2 separate regions of the Homo sapiens genome follow, and region 1 is linked to region 2. The links come from fine-mapping of genetic effects on gene expression. A gene starts in region 2. The other region holds a variant in brackets. All regions are shown on one strand. Distances are from middle to middle. Region 1 overlaps POLR3GL (RNA polymerase III subunit GL). Region 2 holds the start of TXNIP (thioredoxin interacting protein).

Evidence for each region.
Region 1: its variant is fine-mapped to the expression of TXNIP in whole blood (TOPMed, PIP above 0.99).

What each region holds. Positions count from the first base shown.
Region 1 is chr1:145,965,808-145,978,123 of GRCh38, forward strand. POLR3GL (RNA polymerase III subunit GL) reads left to right here. Exons shown (of 8, transcript NM_032305.3): 2 at 9,018-9,184; 3 at 9,500-9,629; 4 at 11,277-11,345; 5 at 11,676-11,732; 6 at 11,971-12,044; 7 at 12,176-12,289. The coding sequence starts at 9,059. Among named protein-coding and RNA genes, the nearest start is that of POLR3GL, 7.3 kb to the left of the region's middle. RefSeq lists enhancers at 10,265-10,764, 11,625-11,714. The variant G/A (reference allele first, on the strand shown) is at 6,351.
Region 2 is chr1:145,990,889-146,003,204 of GRCh38, forward strand. It overlaps TXNIP (thioredoxin interacting protein), which reads right to left and starts at 5,691. Exons shown (of 8, transcript NM_006472.6): 1 at 5,129-5,691; 2 at 4,516-4,588; 3 at 4,256-4,403; 4 at 4,041-4,143; 5 at 3,656-3,912; 6 at 3,393-3,549; 7 at 3,128-3,279; 8 at 1,547-2,998. The coding sequence starts at 5,378. The coding sequence ends at 2,963. RefSeq lists enhancers at 1,820-1,899, 3,721-3,770 and a silencer at 11,342-11,549.

The sequences.
Region 1 (12,316 bases), 25 kb before region 2:
ACTTCCACTGTAAAAGAGGGAAATATGGCTGGGCACGGTGGCTCATGCCTGTAATCCCAGCACTTTGGGAGGCCGAGGCGGGCAGATCGCCTGAGGTCGGGAGTTGGAGACCAGCCTGACCAACGTGGAGAAACTCTGTCTCTACTAAAAATACAAAAATTAGCTGGGCGTGTTGGCGCATGCCTGTAATCCCAGCTACTGGGGAGGCTGAGGCAGGAGAATCATTAGAACCCAGGAGGCGGAGGTTGCAGTGAGCTCAGATCGCACCATTGCACTCCAGCCTGGGCAACAAGAGCAAAACTCCCTCTCAAAAAAAAAAAAAAAAAAAAAAAAAGGAAATCTGTCCTTTTACAGTGGAATTGGTAGCATTCTTAAAAGCAAGCCATTTCTGGCTGGGCGTGGTGGCTCATGCCTGTAATTCCAGCACTTTGGGAGGCTGAGGTAGGCAGATCACTTTAGCCCAGGAGTTCAAGACCAGTCTAGGCAACATGACAAAACCCTGTCTCTACAAAAACTACAAAAAAAATAGCCAAGCATGGTGTCTCAGGCCTGTAGTTCCAGCTGCTCAGGAGGCTGAGGTGGAGGGTTGCTTGAGCTGGAGAAGTCGAGGCTGCAGTGAGCCAAAATTGCCACTGCACTGCACTTCAGCCTAAGCGACAGAGCAAGAACCTGTCTCAAAAAAAAAAAAAAAAAAAAGAGGCCGGGCGTGATGGCTCATGCCTGTAATCCCAGCACTTTGTGAGGCCAAGGCGGGTGGATCACGAAGTCAGGAGTACAAGACCAGCCTGACCAACATGGAGAAACCCCATCTCTACTAAAACTACAAAAAAAATTAGCCAGGCATGGTGGCGCATGCCTGTAATCCCAGTTACTCGGGGGGCTGAGGCAGGAGAATCACTTGAACCCAGGAGGTGGAGGTTGCGGTGAGCTGAGATTGCGCCATTGCACTCCAGCCTGGACGACAAGAGTGAAACTGTCTCAAAAAAAAAATAATAAAATAAAAAGAACATAAATAAATAAAATGGGTATTTTTTAACCATTCATTTATTGTTAGATTGTTTCAGTTATTTCAGAATTTTTGCTACCATAAATAGCTCTTTGATGAATATCCTTTTACTTATATCTGTGACTGTATATCTGTTGATGTCTTTGGAATATATTTTTAAAGTGGGATTGCTGGATTAGGGATATAAACATTTCAAAGGCTGTTGATTTAACTGGACAAATTGCTCCCCTTGAAATATTATGTTTATAGTCTTTCCAGTGAGGTATGAGAGTGTCCATTTGAAAAAAAACTCATGACAGCCTGCTTATTATTTAAATCTTTGTCACTTTCATAGGTGAAGAGTGGTTTTATTGGCCATTCTCTCTCCTTTTTTTTTTTTTTGAGACAGTCTTGCTCTGTTGCCCAAGCTGGAGTGCAGTGGTGAGATCTCAGCTCACTGCAACCTCCACCTCCTGTGTTCAAGTGAGTCTCATGCCTCAGCCTCCTGAGTAGCTGGAATTAAAGGTGTGTACCACTGTGCCTGGCTAATTTTTTGTATTTTTAGTAGAGACAGGGTTTCTCTATGTTGCCCAGGCTGGTCATGAACTCCTGGCCTCAAGTGATCTGTCCACCTCGGCCTCCCAAAACCCTGGATTACAGGAGTGAGCCACCATGTCCAGACATGGCCATTCTCTTTGCCAGTTGCCTGTTCATGTCCTTTGCCCATTTTTTCTATTGAGATGATTTTTTAAAATTTGGATTTCCAAGATTTTAAGGGTGTTAATTTCTTGCTTTATTTATTACATGTATAGCAAATTCTACACATCAGCGTGCCCCAGGCCTCAGTGCCTGGATTTCTTATTTTCTCTGTCCACATCCACTCCTTTAGGGGTCTCACCTAGTCTCATGGCTTGAAGTATTGTTTGTTTGCTGATGCCTCCACTGGAATGAAAGCTCCATTTAAACCCCGTGGGTGCAGCATGTTTTTGTCTGTTTTGCACACTGCTATATCCATAGAATCTAGAACAGTGCCTGGCACACCTAGTAAGCACTCAGTAAATATTTGTTGAGTGAAATGATTCTATTATTGTTATTTTTATTCCCATTTTACAGATGAGGAAACAGGTTTAGAGACAATAAATAAATTACCAGAGTTTTGTAGCTAGGAAATTGAACTGGGATTCAAAACCATATTCTTAACCTCTACATGTACTGCCTTCCTTAAATTTGATGTAATTGTTAGTGTTTTTCTGTATGTTTAGTTGAAACCTGCCTCTCAGTAACTTCCACCACAATATATATGTATGAATAATTGGGAATGAGCATAGTGTATATGAGTGTTGTTTGGAGTAAAACAGAGTACAGGGGTAAACTCTCTGGAAAGGTTGATGTTAAGGAGGAGCAGATTGTGACTAGATTATGGGAGACCTTAAGTATCCTCAAGAATTTTAACTCCATCACAATCTTTAATAGCAGAGACTCCCTATAGATTCCTAAGATGAATGGGGCAGATGGATGGTTTATTTCCCAACCTGTATTAAATAAAATTTTGTCTTCTTTTTCCCCTGCATTCTTAGAGGATCACTCATTTAATGTGTAGAAATGGTGTGGAATTTGTCTAACCTCAAACTCATGGCCATTTATTGACTCTTCATTGCTTTGCAGTCACAGCAGCTCCTATCTCCACTGCCAGAACTATATCTGTCAAGTGGAAAGATACTTAACCAGCTGGTTAGAATGTTCTCTCGCTTAAAAGGGGCTGAAGACACGGTGACAAATTCTTTTTTTTTTTTTTTTGAGACAGAGTCTCGCTCTGTTGCCCAGGCTGGAGTGCAGTGGCACAATCTTGGCTCACTGCAACCTCTGCCTCCTGATTTCAAGTTATTCTCCTGCCTCGGCCTCCTGAGTAGCTGGGATTACAGGCGTGCACCACCACGCCTGGCTAATTTTTTGTATTTTTAGTAGAGACGGGGTTTCACTTTGTTGGTCAGGCTGGTCTTGAACTCCTGACCTCGTGATCCGCCCACCTCAGCCTCCTAAAGTGCTGGGATTACAAGCATGAGCCACCACGCCCAGCCAACAAATTCTTATTATTTCTCTAGTCTCCATGAGACATCTTCTCTCCCTTAATATGCTCTTTTCAAACAGATTGCAATTTGATATCTTAACCAACAGCCATTGTTTCCTCAATTTTTTTTATGGCAGTTGGGCTTGAAACTTCCCAGATTCCTCAGATATACATTTTTCTACCCTCTCCTAGCTACAGATTATTAATCTCATTTAGTATTCTGTTACGACATTTAAATTTTATTTATCTATTTATTGAGACACGGTCTCACTCTGTTGCCCAGACTGGTGCACAGTGGTGTGATCATAGCTCACTGCAGCCTCGACTGCCTGGGCCCAAGTGATCCTTCTGCCCTGGCCTCCCAAAGTGCTGAAATTACCTCCATGAACCACCACAACTGGCCCATTAAAAAAAAATTTTTTTGAGACACAGTCTCGCTCTTTTGCCAGTCTGGAGTGCAGTGGCGCCATCTCGGCTCACTGCAACCTCCACCTCCCGGGTTCAAGCGATTCTCCTGCCTCAGCTTCCTGAGTAGCTGGGACTACAGGCGCACACCACCATGCCCAGCTAATTTTTGTATTTTAGTAGAGACGGGGTTTTGCCATGTTGACCAGGATGTTCTCGATCCCTTGACCTTGTGATCCACCTGCCTCGGCCTCCCAAAGTGTTGGGATTACAGGCATGAGCCACCATGCCCAGCCAAAAATTTTTAAATTAATATTTTAATGTTGTTATAGTATTCTATTCAGTATAGAAAAAAACAAAGCATACATAACCTGGCTGGGCATGGTGGCTCATGCCTGTAATCCCAGCACTTTGGGAGGCTGAGGCAGGCAGATCACGAGGTCAGGAGTTTGAGACCAGCCTGGCCAACATGGGAAAACCCCCTCTCTACTAAAAATACAAAAATTAGCTAAGCATGGTGGTGGGTGCCTGTAATCCCAGCCACTCAGGAGGCTGAGGCAGGAGAATTGCTTGAACCCGTAAGGTGGAGGCTGCGGTGAGCCGAGATTGCACCACTGCACCACTCCAGCCTGGGTGACAGAGCAAGACTCTGTCTCAAAAAAAAAAAAAAAAAGATACACAACTCTCCCCACCAGAAAAAATTCAAAAAACCCTCATCCTTCAAATTAACCGTTGTTAATTTTTGGTACATATCCTTCTATAACAGATTTTTAATTCATATGTGTGTATGTATTTCTGACAGAAGATTACCTTCTACATATTATTTTTAAATATTTTTTTCACCAACTAATCTCTTGGGAATTTTGAATTGCTACTTGATTTTTGTTTTAGCTTTTTGTTTTGAGACAAGGTCTCTGTCACCCAGGGTGAGTGCAGTGACATGATCATGGCTCACTGAATCCTCTTATCTCCCGGGCTGAAGCGATCCTTCCACCTCAGTCTCCCACGTAGCTGGGACTACTGGCATGTGCCACCATGCCTGGCTAATTTTTTTATTTTTTGTAGAGATGGAATCTCACTATGTTGCCCCGGCTGGTCTCAAACTCCTGGACTTAAGTAGTCATCCCACCCCAGCCTCCCAGAGTGCTGGGATTACAGGTGTGAACCACCACGCCCAGCCTCGAGTTTTTTTTGTTTTTTGTTTTTGTTTTAATTAATAGATTATATATTTTAGAACAATTTAAGACTTACGGAAAAATTTAGCAGATAGTGCCAAGAGTTCCCATTTGTCCCAGTGCACAGTTTCCCCTATTAACATTGTAGATTGGCCGGCCGCGGTGACTCACGCCTGTAATCCCAGCACTTTGGGAGGCTGAGGCGGGTGGATCACGAGGTCAGGAGTTCGAGACCAACCTGGCCAAGATGGTGAAACCCCGTCTCTACTAAAAATACAAAAACAAATTAGCCGGGCACGGTGGCGGGCTCCTGTAATCCCAACTACTCGGGAGGCTGAGGCAGGAGAATCGCTTGAACCCGGGAGGCGGAGGTTGCAGTGAGCCGAGATCGCGCCATTGCACTCCAGCCGGGCAACAAGAGCGAAACTCCATCTCAAAAAAAAAAAAAAAAAAAAAAAAAAAAATGCCGGGCGCAGTGGCTCATGCCTGTAATCTAGCACTTTGGGAGGCCGAGGCGGATGGATCACCTGGTCGGGAGGTGGAGACCAGCCTGACCAACATGGAGAAACCCCCTCTGTACTAAAAAAAGTATAAAATTAGCCAGGCGTGGTGGCGCATGCCTGTAATCCCAGGTACTCAGCAGGCTGAGGCAGGAGAATCGCTTGAACCTGGGAGGCGGAAGTTGCAGTGAGCCGAGATCGCGCCATTGCACTCCAGCCGGGCAACAAGAGCGAAACTCCATCTCAAAAAAAAAAAAAAAAAAAAAATTGATTCGTATATTTGTTACAATTAATGAATGAATACTGATACATTATTATTAACTAAGGTTGATACTTGATTGACATTTCTTTGGTTTTTACCTATTGCTCTTTTTCTGTACATGAATCCCATTTAGGATTCCACATTATATTTAGTTGTCACGTCTCCTTAGGCTCCTCTTAAGTGTGACGGGTTTCTCAGACTTTACTGTTTTTGATGACTGACAGTTTTGAGGAGTTGGGTATATTGTAGGATGCCTTTCTGCTGGAATTTGATATTTTTCTCTTTATTAGTGTGGGGTTATGGGTTTTTAGGAGGATGATCACAGAGGTGAAGTACCATTTTATCATGTAATTTTAAGGGCACATACCGAAAACATGATTTATGAGTACTGATGCTGACCTTGGTCATCTGGTTGAAGTAGTGTTTTTCTGGTCTCTCCACTGTAAAGATATTCCTCCTGATTTCCTAAATTATTGAATGAGGGCCGGGTGCAGTGGCTCACGCCTGTAATCCCAGCACTTTGGGAGGCCGAGGCAGGCGGATCATGAGATCAGGAGTTCAAGACCAGACTGACCAACATGGTGAAACCCCGTCTCTACTAAAAATACAAAAATTAGCCGGGCGTAGTGGCGTGCGCCCGTAATCCCAGCTATTCAGGAGGCTGAGGCAGGAGAGTCGCTTGCACCCGGGAGGCAGAGGTTGCAGTGAGCTGAGATTGCGCCACTGCACTCCAGCCTGGGTGACAGAGTGAGACTCTGTCTCAAAAAAAAAAAAAAAAAAAAAAAAAATATATATATATATATATATATACGTGTGTGTGTGTGTGTGTATATATATAGAGAGAGAGAGAGAGAGAAATTCCCTATACACAGTCCACACATAAGAAGTGGGAAGTTATAGCCAGTGCGGTGGCTCACGCCTGAATCCCAGCACTTTGGGAGGCCGAGGTGGGTGG[G/A]TCACCTGAGGTTGGGAGTTTGAGACCAGCCTGACCAACATGGAGAAACCCCGTCTCTACTAAAAATACAAAATTAGCCGGGCGTGGTGGCACATGCCTGTAATCCCAGCTACTTGGGAGGCTGAGGCAGGAGAATCTCTTGAACCCGGGAGGTGGAGGTTGCAGCGAGCCGAGATCGTGCCGTTGTACTCCAGCCTGGGCAATAAGAGCGAAACTCCATCTCAAAAAAAAAAAAAAAAAGTGGGGAGTTATGCTCCCCTGCTCCCTTTTAGGATGGAGTGTCTACATATTTTATTTGGAATTCTACATGAGAGATTTGTCTTTTTTCCCCCATATAAATAAATTCAGTCATTTATTTATATCACTATGGACTCACAGATATTTATCTTATACTTTGGGGTTATAATCTAATACTGCTTTATTTATTTTGTTCCTCAAATTGTTTCAGCTTTGGCCATTGGGAACTTTTTCAGTTGGCTCTTATGTCCCTTTGACATAGCCTCATCAATATGTTTATTTTTTTCGTTTTTTCTCCTTTTTGTTTGTTTTTCGTTTGTTTGAGACAGAGTCTTTACTCTGCCACCCAGGTTGGAGTGCAAGTGGTGCAATCATAACATTGCAGCATCAACCTCCCCGGCTCAAGCAATCCTTCCCAGTAGGGAAGGATCACCCAGTGACCACGGGTGCATGCCACCATGCCTGGCTAATTTTTGTATTTTTTGTAAAGACGAGGTTTTGCCCTGTTGTCCAGACTGGTCTCAAACTCCTAGGGCTCGAGTGATCTGCCCGCTCCAGCCTCTCAAAGTGCTGGGATTATAGCAATGAGCCGCTGCACCCAGCTAACCCATCAATATGTGAGTGTGGTTGTTGTTTTGAGCACCTCCTTACTTTTTGGCACCTCAAGATGCTCTAGACTCATGTTGTATATTTCCTACCCTGTCCTAGAATCAGCTAGTAGTCCAGAGAGCCCTGGTTCCTTTTATTGGAAAATTGTATGAGAAACCAAGATCTGGGTGCTAGGTGTGCTCATTGCTACTGGGATATCATTTCTCTCAAGTTTTCTTTTCATCTGGTGATTTTATTCCCCCATCCTAGCTGCCTCTGACTGGTTCCTCAGGATTGATGATAAGAGACAGAGTGAAAATTCGGTAGAAGGAGAAACTTTAGATTCATCAGTGTTGATCACAGTGGAATATACTGTCTTGGGGGGAGAATGGATACCATCTCTTTAGGGAAATGCCACCAAAAGCTGAATAACAATTCACAAAGTAGGGTCAGGGGTGGTGACTCACACCTGTAATCCCAGCACTTTGGGAAGCCCAAGCAGGTGGATCATTTGAGTCCAGGAGTTCGAGACCAGCCTGGGTGACATGGCGAAATCCTGTCTCTACAAAAAATACAAAAATTAGCCAGGCTTGGTGGCACATGCCTGTAGTCCCAGCTACTCAGGAAGCTGAGGCAGGAGGATCACTTGAGCCTGGGAGGCAGAGGTTGCAGTGAGCCAAGATTGCACTGCTGCACTCCAGCCTGGGCAACAAAGTGAGACTCTGTCTCAAGAAAAAAAAAAAGAAGACACACACATACACCAAACAACAACAAAACAATTTACAGAGTGAAGTCCTGCACTGGGAGGGGTTTAGACTAGATGACCTCTATAAGGGTCCTCCCAATTCTAAGATTCTATGCTTCCAAGTGGTGTTTAAAAAGATCAATTTGGCCTCTCGCGGTGGCTCATGCCTGTAATCCCAGCACTTTGGGAGGCTGAGACAGTTGGATCACTTGACATAATGAAATCCAGTCTCTTAAAAAAAAAAAAAAAAAAAAAAGAGCCAGGCATGGTGGCACACACCTGTAGCTCCAGCTACTTGGGAGGCTAAGGCAGGAGGATCACCTGAGCCCAGGAGGTTGAGGCTGCAGTGAGCCATGATCACACCACGGCACTCCAGCCTGGATGACAGAAAGAGACCCTATCTCAAATAAAATAAAATAAAAAGATCAATTTGATTGTAATGTGTCTTTTCCCCTGGTTTACAATGAAATTGATGACTCATCCCTGTGCTCCCACAGTGCCTGACACACTATCTTTTTCATGGTAGACGATTAATAAATGTTTCGCCGAATGCATTGCATTGGATTGAATTGGGGCCTGGTCAGGTTTGGAAGGCCAGAGATAGAAAGAATTCAAAGGTTATATGTAGAAATGCAGTTTGTGGCTGGGCATAGTGGTTCATGCCTGTAATCCCAGCACTTTGGGAGGCTGAGGCAGGAGGATCTTGAGCCCAGGGGTTCGAGGCTAGAGTGAACTGTGATTGCACCATTGCACTCAAGCCTGGGTGACAGAGCATCTCTAAAAATAAAAATAAAGAAATGCAGATAGAGATAAACATCAAATTGTCTTAGGGATGTAGAGTTTTGTCCAAAGGTGTCAGCACTTTCTCCTTTGTGCTAAACTATATTGTAATTATCTGACCTGTTTGGGGGACCATGTCTCATTCATGTTTATATTTCCAGAAATTCTCTCTCTGACACTGTGCCTTCTCAGTCAAAATTTGTTGAATGACATTAACTTTTCATGTCCCAGAGATAAAAGATTGAATGTCTTGTACCTCCTTGGCTTCCTGTCCATTCTACTACATTTCTTTTTCTCTTTGTTTTTGTCTTTATTAGGTTTATTCACTGGATCTCTGAATACCCAGGCCCCCTCCACCATGGCCAGCCGGGGTGGGGGCCGGGGTCGTGGCCGGGGCCAGTTGACCTTCAACGTGGAGGCCGTGGGCATTGGGAAAGGGGATGCTTTGCCCCCACCCACCCTGCAGCCTTCTCCACTCTTCCCTGTGAGTCTCTCCACTCCCTTCCCAGACTCTCATGTGCCCCTGGCTGACTGTACATGATTCTGAATTCCTCCTGGACCATCATAAAACCATCCTCGCTTTGGCCCTCTCTCTATACTCCCAATGCACAGGGATGTTTTGCAGGCAAAGAAGTGTCCACCTTTACTTCTCCCCAGCTTTCAAAATAATATGTTACTCCCTCGATTGTCATTTGGCCCTCTGCTCAGTGGGAGTGTTAGACTAAATTGGGAGGAGGGGTCTTCCTAAATTTGTACTAGCATTTTCTCCCTGAACTGACCACTGCCCCTGCCTCTTTAGCCCTTGGAGTTCCGCCCAGTACCTTTGCCCTCAGGCGAGGAAGGGGAATATGTCCTGGCACTGAAGCAAGAGCTACGAGGAGCCATGAGGCAGCTCCCCTACTTCATCCGGCCAGCTGTCCCCAAGAGAGGTCAGTTGGAATGCTAGCATCATATTCTGAGTGCCTTCCATGGGGAGTGCCCTGTGCTCAGCACCACTGGGGGCCAGAGGGGCACAGGAAGCATACTATCTAACTGGGGAGATCATAATAGTTACCCCTGTATCTGAAATGCATTATAGTATTCATGGTTTGTTTTGAGTCTCATGATAGTCTTGGGACAGCAGGAGGTTAAATATTAAAATCCCATTTCACGTGTATAAGTAGGGGGATGTATTTTCTAAAAAATTATATATTTTTTATTTTTTTGTAAAATAGAGATAGGGTGTCCTTATGTTGTCCAGGCTGGTCTTGAACTTCTGGGCTCAAGAGATTCTCCTGCCTTGGCCTCCCAAAGTGCTGGGATTACAGGCATGAGCCACTGCGCCCAGCAAAATTTTTAACAATCTGGATATTATAAGCACCAACCAACAAGAGAATACTGAAATCCTGGTTTCTTATTCCCTAGCATACTTTCCACTGCACCACGCTATTTCTTAATACAGCCATGCCTTTGAACTAAGGGACAGAAAAAAAAAAAATCATCATGGCCGGGTGCGGTGGCTTACGCCTGTAATGGCCAGCACTTTGGGAGGCTGACATGGGTGGATCACTTGAGGCCAGGAGTTTGAGGCCAGCCTAGCCAATACGGTGAAACCCTGTCTCTACTAAAAATATAAAAATTAGCCAGGCACAGTGGTGTGTGCCTGTGGTCTCAGCTACTCGGGAGGCTGAGGCTGAGGCTGAGGCATGAGAATCGCTTGAACCTGGGAGGTGGAGGTTGCAGTGAGCTGAGATCTTGCCACTGCACTCTAGCCTGGGTGACACAGCAAACCTCTGTCTCAAAAAAAAAAGGCCAGGTGTGGTGGCTCACACCTAGAATCCCAGCACTTTGGGAGGCTGAGGTGGGCAGATCACGAGGTCAGGAGTTCAAGACCAGCTTGGCCAACATAGTGAAACCCCGTCTCTACAAAAAATACAAAAAAATTAGCCAGGCCTGGTGGCAGATGCCTCTAATCCCAGCTGCTTGGGAGGCTGAGGCAAGAATTGCTTGAACTTGGGAGGCGGAGGTTGCAGTGGGCTGAGATCACGCCACTGCACTCCAGCCCAGGCGACAGTGCGAGATTCTGTCTGAAAAAAAAAAATCGTAATTTTGGGTGGAAAAGGAACAGGTTAGAAGAGTGATAAGGGGCCGGGCGCAGTAATTCACGCCTGTAATCCCAGCACTTTGGGAGGCCGAGGTAGGTGGATCACGAGGTCAGGAGATTGAGACCATCCTGGCCAACATGGTGAAACCCCGTCTCTACTAAAAATACAAAAATTAGCTAGGCGTGGTGGTGTGTGCCTGTAGTCCCAGCTACTCAGGAGACTGAGGCAGGAGAATCGCTTGAACCTGGGAGGTGGAGGTTGCAGTAAGCTGAGATTGTACCACTGCACTCCAGCCTGAGGGACAGAGCGAGACTCTGTCTCAAAAAAAAAAAAAAAAAAAGTAGATAAGGTCCTCACTGAAGCTGACCCCCTGGGCTCTGGGTTTGGGGTAAGGAAACAGATAATTCCTCAGTATTGAGAGGGCTGGACTCTCAGGAACAGTCCTGTTCTGGGTCTCTGAAGGGATAAAACTTTGACCCTTCCACCCCTCAGATGTGGAGCGTTATTCAGACAAATATCAGATGTCAGGTCCGATTGACAATGCCATCGATTGGAACCCTGGTAGGTGATGGGCCCTTTCATTGACTGCCCTTCTTTCAAATGCATGGGATGCTTCAAGCTATTCCCACCACGCCCATGACCCCACCCCATTCCCCGATCCAGCATCTGCAAGCTAGAGCCTTAGTTATGGTCCAACACATTCTCAGATTCTACCTGAAAAAGCTATTAAATAGTTCCCACTACTCAGGAGATATCCAAGCCACTGAACAACTTTGGCCCAGCCCCTTCCTTCCTCTCCTTTAAAACCCTCACCCCCCTTTAAAACCAGTCAGTATTCACTGGAGACCCCAGGCAGGGTCCTATTGACATTTACGTTCCCACTATTCCCAGATTGGCGGCGTCTACCCCGGGAGCTAAAGATCCGAGTGCGGAAGCTACAGAAGGAACGTGAGTGTATCTGGAAAAAAGGAGGGAGAAGAGAGGTTTCCTTCATCAGCCTGAGGGCCGAGGCTGCTGCTGGTCTCACCTTCCATCCCAGTTCCTATACCCAATCTACCAAGTGTTGTTGCTAGATGTCATAGTGGCCACATGAGGGCAGCAGAGTGACATGTTCTTTGCATGAGGATGGGCTATAAAGCTGGCAAAATTTGCTCTCTGAAGGTTTACCTTTTGATCCCTCCACCAGGGATTACAATTCTGCTCCCCAAGAGGCCCCCTAAGACCACAGAAGATAAGGAGGAAACAATACAGAAACTAGAGGTGAGGAGGAAGTGTGCATAGAGACCTCCTGAGCCCTGGATCCATTCCCTCTCTCTTGGCCCATGTGTGCCTCAATTTTTCCCTTCTGTGAACTGAACCTGAGTTTCTATTCCTATTCATCCCCACATGAGACCCTGGAGAAGAAGGAAGAAGAAGTAACTTCAGAGGAGGATGAGGAGAAAGAAGAAGAAGAAGAGAAGGAAGAGGAGGAAGAAGAAGAGTATGATGAAGAAGAACATGAAGAGGTGAAGGGGACTCCTTCCACCTTAGTC
Region 2 (12,316 bases):
GTGCAATCATAGCTCACTGTAACCTAGAACTTCTGGGCTTGAATGATCCTCTTGCCTCAGCCTTGTGAGTAGCTAGAGCTACAACACCCCACACTGATTTCATGTAGAATTTCCAGGAGCCTGTTATTTGGAATTAGTTTGTGGAAGTCCTCAGAAAAATCAATTCCCAAATAAGGACCAGGACCAGATCTGTGCAAATATTTAAATTGGCCATCCCAGGGTTTCTCCACCTGTCGGTTCTTTAGGAATGAAAATCACTGCTGGGCGCCATGGCTCACACCTGTAATCCCAGCACTTTAGGAGGCTGAGGCGGGTGAATCACGGGAAGTCAGGAGTTCGAGACCAGCCTGGCCAACATGGTGAAACCCCGTCTCTACTAAAAATACAAAAATTAGCTGAGTGTGGTGGCTCATGCCTGTAATCCCAACTACTCAAGAGTCTGAGGTAGCAGAATCGCTTGAACCTGGGAGGCGGACATTGTATTAAGCCAAGATTGGGCCACTGCACTCTAGCCTGGGAGACAGAGCAAGACTCTATCTCAAAAAAAAGAAAGAAAGAAAGAAAGAAAGAAAATCACACCAATTAAACATGGGATTGTGGTATTACTCTACTACTATTACCCTACAAGGAATAGGAACCATCAAATCATCTAAGGGATGAGGGTGAAGTTGAATAGTTAGCAAACATTTACTGAGTTATGTGCTTGGTTAGGAACTGTGAAAATAAAAAATGGTTAGCTGCCTCCAAAGAATTTAATACTCATAACTCTATAACCTCTTAAGTCCTGAAGTTATCCTTGTTAGTATATAAATCAAGTTTACATTGGGAAGAAACCCTATGATAAAACCATATTGTAAAAAGGGGATCTTCAGCTGAGTGTGGTGTCTCACGCCTGTATTCCCAACTCTTTGGGAGGCCAGGGCCAGCAGATCACTTGAGCCCAGAAGTTTGAGGCCAACCTGGACAACATGGCAAAACCCGAACTCTACAAATAATCAAAAAATTAGCTGAGCGTAGAAAAAACAAACACATACACACACACACACGCACACACAATTAACTGAACGTAGTTGTGTATGCCTGTAGCCCAGCTATGTGGGAGGCGGAGATGGGAAGATCACTTGAGCCCAGGAAATCAAGGCTGCAGTGAGCTAAGATCATACTACACTCCAGCCTGGGTGAGTGAGACTGTCTCAAAAAAAGGAACCGCCACTCTTTTCTTTCAAATGCCCTCATAAACATCATCTCCCTGTATTTCAAGAACCCATGAACTCCAAAACTGAAGGAATTTAGTAATGATTACCTATGGATTTGGAAAACTAGTTTAGACAACCGGAAAATCCCAGTATAGTTGTTCAGTGAATCTGAAACATGCCTCAAACGGTTTCCCTCTTCACCTTCTAGCCCCCACTCTGCCGACATTCCTTAGGGTCCATAGGGAGTGTTTTCTCCACAAGGTTTTCATTAGTGTGGATTGTTAAGTAGAGGAAAACTCCTTTAGACACACCTTCTTTCCAAAAACTTTTCCAAAGCCATCTCACAGACATTTTTTTTTCCATTAAAAAAACTTTATTTTCATTTTTTACAAAGAATATCCCCATCTGGGGTAAAAATATATCTGGTTAAGTACAAAATATAGTCTTTACCATACAAAAAGATACATAATACAAAAACATGAAACCAACCATCTTCAGCCCACACTTTCTGGCTGTAATAACTCTCAGAAAAGGGTGGAGCTCAGTGCTCTGACACAGGACAGTGAACAAAGTGCTATGGCTGAGAGTGACTGACCAAGTGCTGGCAGCTGCAGTGAGGGGCCAATATCCCTATCTCCTAACACAGGGCAGGAAGGGGGTTCAAAGGGCTTTTATGAAGACCTGCCCTCTAGTTTCTCATGGCAGTATTTGGAGGTTCTGATCACAGGGTTGGGCATCTTGATCAAGAGTTCCTCCTTGGGTTTGAAGTCACAGTGGGCAAGGCTGACAGCAGCAACCCTTTCACATGATTTAAGCGTTAGAATTATATAATTCTGTACATTGGGGCAATCTCAAAAGTAGTAAAATTTTTTTTGTCTTTTGGCTTAACCCTAGAGACACAGTAGACCAGTTTCAGCTTACATTTAAGATGGCAGAAGGGGAGAACAAAAAATTTGACAGGAATTAAAGTGCTAAGAACATCACCTTAGAATCAATTCCAAGGACTTACATGAAGAGAAAACCATCCTCCCATATGAAAATATTTGCAGTAGGAGAACACAGTGCAATAGGCTCCAAAAATGGCTTTTAAGACCTTTGGTGGGGCAGTTACTACTGCTTTAAAAGCCAGGTTAAAGTATACTCTAAGCAAAGATGACCGTAGAGCAGCTAGCTTCCTTTTTTATAATCACAGGGAAAGCTCTCTCCATTGTCCATCAAATCAGCTCTAGAAGGTTTTTCTTTTTTTTCTACAAGTGCACAAAGGGGAAACACTGATTTTAAGAACCTCCTTTTCCCAAAGTTTTGGCCACAATTTCCCTTTTCATCTTCCTAGTTTGTTAAATTGGCTCTTCTCCACATGATACGTAAGTTCAAGGTCCAAAGTTCCTATCACAATTTACAAAAAGCCTCCAAAAAACCTTGAAAAGCTTACGCCAGGAGGCCATTTTTACCTGACCCGAAACTATCGAAAAGGCCTCAATTTTCAAGGAGATCTGAGAAAATGGATGGGCCTGAGTTTTTCTAGTTATTTTTAAACCCATCCAACAAACACCCCTGTATCACAACATGGGCGCTGGCTGAGGATGAGTCCGCATCCTTTAAGGCCCAGGAGATTGCCTGCTGACCACCTCCTACATTAGGAAGTCAGAGGCTAAGGTGGACCCACACTCCATTGCAGAGACTGTTGAGTCTCTGAAAAAGTGAGTGTCCAGGAAGAGAGACAAAAAGAAACAAGTAGGTAAAGCTGCTTCTTTTCTTCCACATGCTCACTGCACATTGTTGTTGAGGATGCAGGGATCCACCTAAAGAAAGAAACAGACTATTTCAGTTCAGGTAAGAACAAAAAGAACAAACCAGTTTAGCAATCCGTCTAAGTCAACTTCTTATAGAAAGCTTAGGACAAATTTAACAGTAAAGATGACAATCCTCACCTCAGTATAAGTCGGTGGTGGCATGAACTTGAACTCAGGGGCATACATAAAGATAGGGCTGTCTTGAGAGCCATCCATGTCATCTAGCAGAGGAGTGGTTGGGCTCTCCAATCGGTGATCTTCAGGAATGACATCCATATAGCAGGGAGGAGCTAGAAAAGAAAATATGGCCACATAAGAATCCTGCCCAAGAAATGCTGGACCATCACAATTTTACAAACCCAGGTAGACCAGAAACAAAGAAAAGACATTAGGTCTGGCTCACCTTCTGGGGTATCAGGGATGTTCAGATCTACCCAACTCATCTCAGAGCTGGTTCGGCTGGCCATGCTGGATGTTCTGCTGCTTAGACCTGATCTGCTGCCAATTACCAGGGGCAGGTCAAGGATGACCTTCTTGGATCCAGGAACGCTAACATAGATCTAGAAAGGAAGATGGCAGTTTATTACACCAGAGGTCTGGAGAAACAAGACAGCTGTGGTAACAGATGAACAATTTCTCTGCTGAAGCCACCCTGCATCTACCCACCAGTAAGGAATATTCAACTCGAAGGATGTTGCAGCCCAGGATAGAAGGCCTGATCTTCTGAACCCGAAGGCTCTTGCCACGCCATGATGCGCATGTCCCTGAGATAATATGATTGCCTCTGACTGATGACAACTTCTGAGTCAGCACCTTGGTCTGGCCATTGGCAAGGTAAGTGTGGCGGGCCACAATGGCAGCTTTGGGGACCACAATTCGGGAACATGTATTCTCAAAGTCAGCATGGATGGAAATCTCATCACCTAGCAATGAGAAAGATGAAAACTTACTGATACTCAGTATAGTTAATGACACTTCCTCTACCCCAGTCCCATGCCCTTGCCCCTAAACCCAGTTCCTGTTTTAACTGCCATAAGCACTAGGATTTTACCTTCACAGAATCCTTTTCTGTCAATTCGAGCAGAGACAGACACCCGCCCATCAGGAATGAACATGCAGGAAACTTTCTTTTCTTTTTTAGCAGACACAGGTGCCTATATAGAAGGGGATAAAAAGGTGTTTTGAGATGCTTCAATCTAATGCCCAAGACGTCTGATTTATCATCCTCATGACCCAGGAGAATAGAATCTTTAAAATGGATCTCACCATTAAATCAGGGGTATTGACATCCACCAGATCCACTACTTCAAAGTTTTTCTTTGTCTCTTGAGTTGGCTGGCTCGGGCGGTCAAGAAAAGCCTTCACCCAGTAGTCTACACACCCATATTTTCCTTTGAAGGATGTTCCCAGAGGCCTGTGTCAAGAAAATGAAAATTTTAAAACGCTCTCCAAGAACAGTAAGTGATCAAAGGAGGGCAAGATATTTTAGACAGAAAAGTTCAAAGATGCATTTAGCTGATATTTACCCCTGAGGAAGCTCAAAGCCGAACTTGTACTCATATTTGTTTCCAGGTCTCATGATCACCATCTCATTCTCACCTGAAGGGAAAGAAAATCGAGTAGCCATTAGGCTTGCTGTTACACTTAAAATGCATCTGTGTGATAAGGAATGCTTGGGTGGCATGCAAGGTATTGAAGTACCCCCAATTTCATCCCATATATATATTTTTTAATCCATCCCATATTGTTCTTAAAGAGAAATTCTGATGTATTTTGTCGGGCAGCAAGTTGCCAAGCCCTGCAATACTGAAAGATTCACCCAGGACAGTTCTCTACTAACATCTCAAATAGGAAGTAGACAAAGAATAAGCAACTTATGCACACATAAGACTTTAACTACCCGAGGCAACGCCCCTCAGGATCCCCTTTAGGACACAGCACCATAAAAAATTGTACAAATCACCCTTTTTTTTGGGGGGGGAGGAGAATGTCTGCAAATTAAAACAGAAAAAAGGAAGCAACAACACGTAATTCAAACCACTCAAACTGAGCAACTTAAAACATTTCGTACAGGTTTTGTGTATTCAATTCTCTTCTCTAATCAGCTTTCACCCTCCAACAATGAATTGGGCCGCTTACCTGTTGGCTGGTCTTCCAGAAGAAGCGTGTCTTCATAGCGCAGGTACTCCGAAGTCTGTTTGCACTGCTGGGATCCCTGCATCCAAAGCACTTTAGCCACTCCGCAAGCCAGGATCCTAACGGCTTTGACACGAGTAACTTCACACACCTCCACTATCACCCGGCCAGCCACCTTCTCGCCACTGCCGTACACCTTTTCAGGGTCGTTAAAGACCACCTCAAAAGACTTGATCTTCTTGAACATCACCATGATGGAACTGAGTTGGTTTTAAGAGTTAGAAATGACGGTGGAAGAAAAAAAAAGCTCCAAATCGAGGAAACCCCTTTGCAAAAAATTATTTCACTTTAAGGAATTAAGGTATTCTTAAGCAGTTTGAGCTTAAAAATAAAATAAGATTTAAACAAATGAATATTAACTACTAGGTTTTCGAAAAGGCGCCTAAAAAATATACGCCGCTGGTTACACTAAGCTAATTCAGAGAAAAAGCCTTCTTTCCCCCAATTGCTGGAGAAAAGATCCGATCTCCACAAGCACTCCTTTGGAGAAAAAGAGGGGTTAGTTTCAAGCAGGAGGCGGAAACGTCTCTATATAGTAGCCCGGGCCAGAAGAGCCACGCGAGCGCTGGCCCGGAGGCTCGTGCTGCCCTCGTGCACATCCCTCCCATTGGCTGCCCGGTCCTTGTTTACCAGGAGCCCGACCAATCAGTGAGATCGCTGTGGCGCGTGGACACGGTGTGCTCCTGGCTGGGAAAATGGTTGTTGCGCTCTGGAGCGGCGCAGGGAGGGGGGAAGGAGAGGAAGGAGAGGAAGGAGGGGAAGGAGGGGGCTGTTGAGCGTCTTCTCCCGGGTCCAGTGGAAGGAGGATCCCACTGACCCTAAAACCTAGCCAGGGCGACAGGCCATCGGAGGGCGGGTGTGGACGTTTCTGGTCTGAGAGCGGTGTTTTGAGGTAAAAGGAAAATGTGCTTATGAGGGAATTTCATGCCTAGTCTTAGCCAGTGCAGTTACTTTAGAGCCTGTCGTTATTCCTGGCTCATAAATAGCAAGTGTGTGAAAATCCCATAGCTCCAAGAATACTTTCAGGTTTGGGGCTGTGGAGCGCAGAATGCTTGGTGTTACTGTTCAGGAACAGCCCTTTGTCCTTCTCTTGCCCCGCATCCCTATTAAGTATAAAAAACACCACCGTCTCTGAGGGAAAGGAGAACTTTCAGGCCTCATTGTGTGTGTAGGACCGATGTCTTCTCCTTCCCGTTCCAATCCCTTGGGGCTAGGGCTGGGGGCTGCGTGCCTGTGCTGTTCGTCACCCACCCCCAGCTTGTACCCTCTCTTCTGTTCTCTCTGTTCTGTGGAACGGAAATAGGAGGGGCGTGTTTACATCCTGTTGCTTATCCTGTCATCTCTTCAATTTCTACCTGCAAAGTTGGGGAACACTTTGTCTGTGTTCCCCATTTACCTCATTACCTCTTTAGTGAGGTGTGTCCAGGCGCTCATTATCTCCCACTTCCTACCTGCTTCTGGAGGAAAAGGAAAAGCGGGAAAAAAAGGATGCTTCACTCTTTTCACTTTTTTCCAGTTATGTTCACTCTTTCTTGTCTCCATCCCCTCTTCCAACTCACTAAATCAAATGTACATCCATAAATCTGGTTAAAAGTGAGAAAGTCCTCTTGTTTATATCCAAATTTTCAGTGGAGAGATGGCCACACACCTGTTTGAAGGAACAATTTTAAAAACTATTTTCAAAGGTTTTTCCCTAAACGGTTTAGAAAACAGTAAGAAGGAAAAGAGAAGAAAGATCGGTCAACAGAGCACTATAAATTCAAGCCAGAAGAGACCCTACCCTCTCTCTTCATTCTTTGTTGGTTTCGTTTGGCCAGCTGTCAGATGGATTTTCCCCTGCTGGCTGTGAGATGCTTTAGGAGCTGAGTACTGAGAACTTACTCTTAAATGTAATAGGAAAAACCTGTATGCAAAAGTGCAGGGATTCTTCCTCCTTTTATTTGATTCATAGACCCTTCCTATATCTGTGCTGGGGTATCAGAAGATTATTATTTAATTCCTTGTGCTGGAAAGAGGAAGATAATGTCCCAAGATTGAGATGGGGAGGTAATTAAGAAGCATTCAAGTATATTGAAACCCTACCCAATCAGCAAAAAAAAAACAATATTCATTGCTGTTAAAGAGCCTTCTTCCTTCCTCAGACAGCCTAGCTGGATTGACACTCTAAGGCTAACGAGAGTTACAACTCAACCCCAATATTAAGCAAGCTCAAGAATAGGCATCATGAGTCTCTTCGAAAACACACACATGCATTAAACCCCAGGAACATGTTGATCCTTAGGGTGTGTTTGAGGCGGCACCCTGTTCTAGAAACTTAACCAGCTAGGCTTGAGGTGTTTTCAGTTGGTTAACAATATTGATTGAGTTACTGGGAGCAGAGGAGGTGGAACTCTGACTGAAGTAATTTTTTTTTTAAGGTGGAATCTTGCTCTGTTGCCTAGGCTGGAGTGCAGTGGCCTGACCCCAGCTCACTGCAACCTCTGCCTCCTGGGTTAGAGCGATTCTCCGCCTCAGCCTCCTGAGTACCTGGCATTACAGGCATGCATCACCACGCCCAGCTAATTTTTGTATTTTTAGTAGAGATGGGGTTTCACCATGTTGCCCAAGATGGTCTTGAACTCCTCCTGACCTCAGGTGATCCACCCGCCTTGGCCTCCCAAAGTGCTGGGATTACAGGCGTGAGCCACCGTGCCTGGCCTGACTGAAGTAATTTTAAAAGTTCAAAATTGTGGCTTCTGGGAGAACGTTTAGTTTGATGGGTATGAAAGTGTAACTATCAAACATCAAAATGCTGACAAATATATGAATCAATATTGTTAACTACATAGTCAATATTGTTAAATATTGTTAAATCTTAACTACATACATTTTGAGGGAATAGGAAAGATGGTGGCTAGTGATGGATCAGGGTGGTGGTAATATGGGACATCTTAAGACATCCAACTCTCAACCAGGTTGGAATGCAGTGTCACTTGGCTCACTGAAACCTCCACATCCCAGGCTCAAGTGATTCTCCCACCTCAGCCTCCCGAGTAGCCGGGACTACAGATGTGCTCCACCACGCCTAGGTAATTTTTGTATTTTTGGTAGAGATGGGGTTTCACCATGTTGGCCAGGCTGGTCTCAAACTCCTGCTCAAGCAGTCCGCCTACCTGGCCTCCCAAAGTGCTGGGATTATAGGCACCCTTTTCCCTTTCAATTTATTTGATATTTATGTGGGCACATCTCTGAAGTACTGAATTGCTGAGTTTTAAAAAATCCTATGACAATTCTCTCGTTCTAAGTTTCTCTTCTGGGCTCTGGTTTCCTTGTATCTTCCCATTTGCAGAGCTCACTACAGACTACGTTGCTCTGTGTTATGCCTGGGTTCCTTTAAATGCCAAAAAATTATTTAGCTTTGGCAGCAGCTGCTGCCTACCAGGCCTGTAGCCAAGGCATGTTCTGAAGTGGAGTCCTCCTGGACACGGTTGTTTACGACCTTTCACCTTGTAACCTGGTATTCTGATAAAAACCTGCCCCGATTCTCCTTTCCCAGTTCTTGGGTCTAAGAAGAAAGAAATTTTGTAAACTCTTGTCCTAAAATCAGGGTATAAAAACACTTGTGAGGTTTGGGAAAAGGGGTGGGCCAAGGAGGAACAGCAAAGTAGGGCACAGTCAAAGAGTTTTGCAAGTTGGATCATCTTTATCTGCCCCTTCTCTACCCTCTTCAGTCCCAGTGCCAACAGGAAACCAAGTGGTGATTGTTGTTTGTTTGCTTTACTGCAGGTGACAGAATAAAGCCAGCAGTTTCAGGGAGGGAAGTGCCCTCAGCACTTTGTTGCCAGTCAGAGACAAGACACTGATTGCATTTCTCTTTTCTTTAACCTCTGGCCTGACAAACATTTAGAACATGAAGACTCATAGTTCTTAATGCAGAACAAAGCCCTTTCTTGGTCCTTTTAATCACTTCTCTCACCTCTACTCTGTAAACTTCCCTTTTACCCTTACCCATTTTCCTTTCTCTCTCTCTTTTTTTTTCCACATAGGGTCTCACTCTCAACCAGGTTGGAATGCAGTGTCACTTGGCTCACTGAAACCTCCGCATCCCAGGCTCAAGTGATTCTCCCACCTCAGCCTCCCGAGTAGCTGGGACTACAGATGTGCTCCACCACGCCTAGGTAATTTTTGTATTTTTGGTAGAGATGGGGTTTCACCATGTTGGCCAGGCTGGTCTCAAACTCCTGCTCAAGCAGTCCGCCTACCTCGGCCTCCCAAAGTGCTGGGATTATAGGCACCCTTTTCCCTTTCAATTTTTTCCCTAAGGAATTTAGAGGCAAATTAAGAGTTTGAAGACTGCCCCAAGTCATAGATCAATAAGAATAAATTAACAATTGTAAGCCAGGTGTGGTGGCTCATGCCTGTAATCCCAGCACTTTGGGAGGCTGAAATGGGAAGATCACTTGAGGCCAGGAATTCAAGAAGATCACCCTGGGCATTGTAGTGAGACCCCATCTCTCTTTAAAAAAAAAAAAAAAGGCTGGGCGCGGTGGCTCACGCCTGTAATCCCAGCACTTTGGGAGGCTGAGGCAGGCAAATCACGAGGTCAGGAGATTGAGACCATCCTGGCTAACACAGTGAAACCCCGTCTCTACTAAAAATACAAAAAATTAGCCGGGTGTGGTGGCAGGCGCCTATAGTCCCAGCTACTCGGGAGGCTGAGGCAGGAGAATGGCGTGAACCTGGGAGGTGGAGCTTGCAGTGAGCCGAGATCTCGCCACTGCACTCCAGCCTGGGCGACAAAGTGAGACTCCATCTCAAAAAAAAAAAAAGAATTGTATAGCATGTTAGAGTTCCAAGTGACTTTTTAAGTAATTGCCATTTATTGAGCACCTATAATGAACCAAGTCTTTTATATAATTATGTCAGTGATAATTATCTGTCATCTGTCATGTTGTTCTAGAAAGTATTTGAGGTTGGCCGGGCGCGGTGGCTCACGCTTGTAATCCCAGCACTTTGGGAGGCCGAGGCGGGCGGATCACGAGGTCAGGAGATCGAGACCATCCTGGCTAACACGGTGAAACCCCGTCTCTACTAAAAATACAAAAAAAATTAGCCGGGCGTGATGGTGGGCGCCTGTAGTTCCAGTTACTCGGGAGGCTGAGGCAGGAGAATGGCGTGAACCCGGGAGGCGGAGTTTGCAGTGAGCCGAGATTGCGCCACTGCACTCCCGCCTGGGCGACAGAGCGAGACTCCGTCTCAAAAAAAAAAAAAAAGAAAGTATTTGAGGTTAGATTGTTTCATTTAATTCTCTCAATAACCTTGTGACTCGGTGTTGGTTCAGTCAGGCTCAGAAGTGAAGTAATTTGCCTGAGGTCACAGATTTTGTAAGTAGAGCAAGATCTTGAACCCGCCCATGTCTGTCTAAAAGTATGTACTATAAAAATGTGTTGTCTTGGCTCTCAGTGCTTTGATACACAGTATCTTGTTTGATTCTCACAATAGTCTAATAAAGGATTCAGGGCAAGACTCAGAGAATTTTAGAGTTAAATGGGACTGTAGCAGTCTTTTATTTTTTTAAAACCAGTTCTTATTTTGGTTAAGTGACTTGACCTGGGACATAAGCTAGTATCTGGTGGAGCCACTCTCCAAACCCAGGATTCTCTTTATTATCTATTTGTTTATTTTGTTGTTGCCCAGACTGGAGTACAGTGGCACAAGCATAGCTCAGTAGCGGGAACTACTAGGAACACACACCATACTCAGCTAATTTTTTTTTTTGAGAAAGGGTCTTACTTCATCACCAGGCTGGAGTGCAGTGACATGACCATGTCTCACTGTAACCTCAACCTCCAGGGCTGAGGTGATCCTTCCACCTTGGCCTCTTGAGTCAGCTGGGACTACAGGCACATGCCGGGCTAATTTTCATATATTTTGGTAGAGATGGAGTCTTGCCATGTTGCCTGGGCTGGTCTGGAACACCTGGGCTCAAGCTATCCACCCACCTTGGCCTCCCAAAGTGCTGGAATTATAGATATGAGCCACCATGTCCAATCTTGTTTGTTAATTTAGTTTTAACTTTTAAAAATATCTCATCTGGAGGCCCACATTTCGTGTTTACTGAGATCAATTTTTCTACCATGATAAGCAAAGGATAGAGATCTCAGTATTGTCCAATGTCATGGCAAGATGGGGAGAGGGGCTGAATTAACTTGTTTGGAGGTATTGTAGGCTCATTTAAGATAGTTCTTTTTGGCTGGGCGTGGTGGCTCACGCCTGTAATCCCAGCATTTTGGGAGGTCGAGGCAGGCAGATCAACTGAGGTCAGGAGTTTGAGACCAGCCTGACCAACAAGGAGTAACCCCGTCTCTACTAATAATACAAAATTAGCCAGGTGTGGTGGCGCATGCCTGTAATCCCAGTTACTCAGGAGGCTGAGGCAAGAGAATAGCTTGAACCTGGGAGGTGGAGGTTGCAGTGAGTCAAGATTGCACTCCAGCCTGGGCAACAAGAGCAAAACTCCGTCTACAAAAAAAAAACCTAAAAAAGTTTTTTTTCTTTTCTGAAGGCCCTTACAATAACTTCCTAAAGGTAGTTCTTTTTCTTTTCTTTTTTTTGTAATTAGCTTTATTTACTTATCTATTTACTTTTGAGACAAGGTCTTACTCTGTCACCCAGGCTGGAGTGCGGTGGCGTGATCTCGGCTCGCTGCAACCTCCACCTCCCAGGTTCAAGTGATTCACCTGTCTCAGCCTCCCTAGTAGCTGGGATTATAGGCACCCACCACCATGCCCAGCTAATTTTTTGTATTTTTAGTAGAGGTGGGGTTTCACCTTTTTGGCCAGGCTGGTCTTGAACTTCTGACCTCAGGTGATCCACCTGCCTTGGCCTCCCAAAATGCTGGGATTACAGGTTTGAGCCACCATGCCCAGCTTTATCTATTTATTTTTTATATAGAGTCTCACTCAGGCTGGAGTGCAATGGCACGATCTTGGCTCACTGCAACCTCTGCCTCCCAGGTTCAAACGATTCTCCTCTGCCTCCAGAGTAGTTGGGATTACAGGCATTGGCCAGGCTGGTCTTGAACGCCTGACCTCAAGTGATCCACCCACCTTGGCCTCCCAAAGTGCTGGGATTACAGGCGTGAGCCACTGT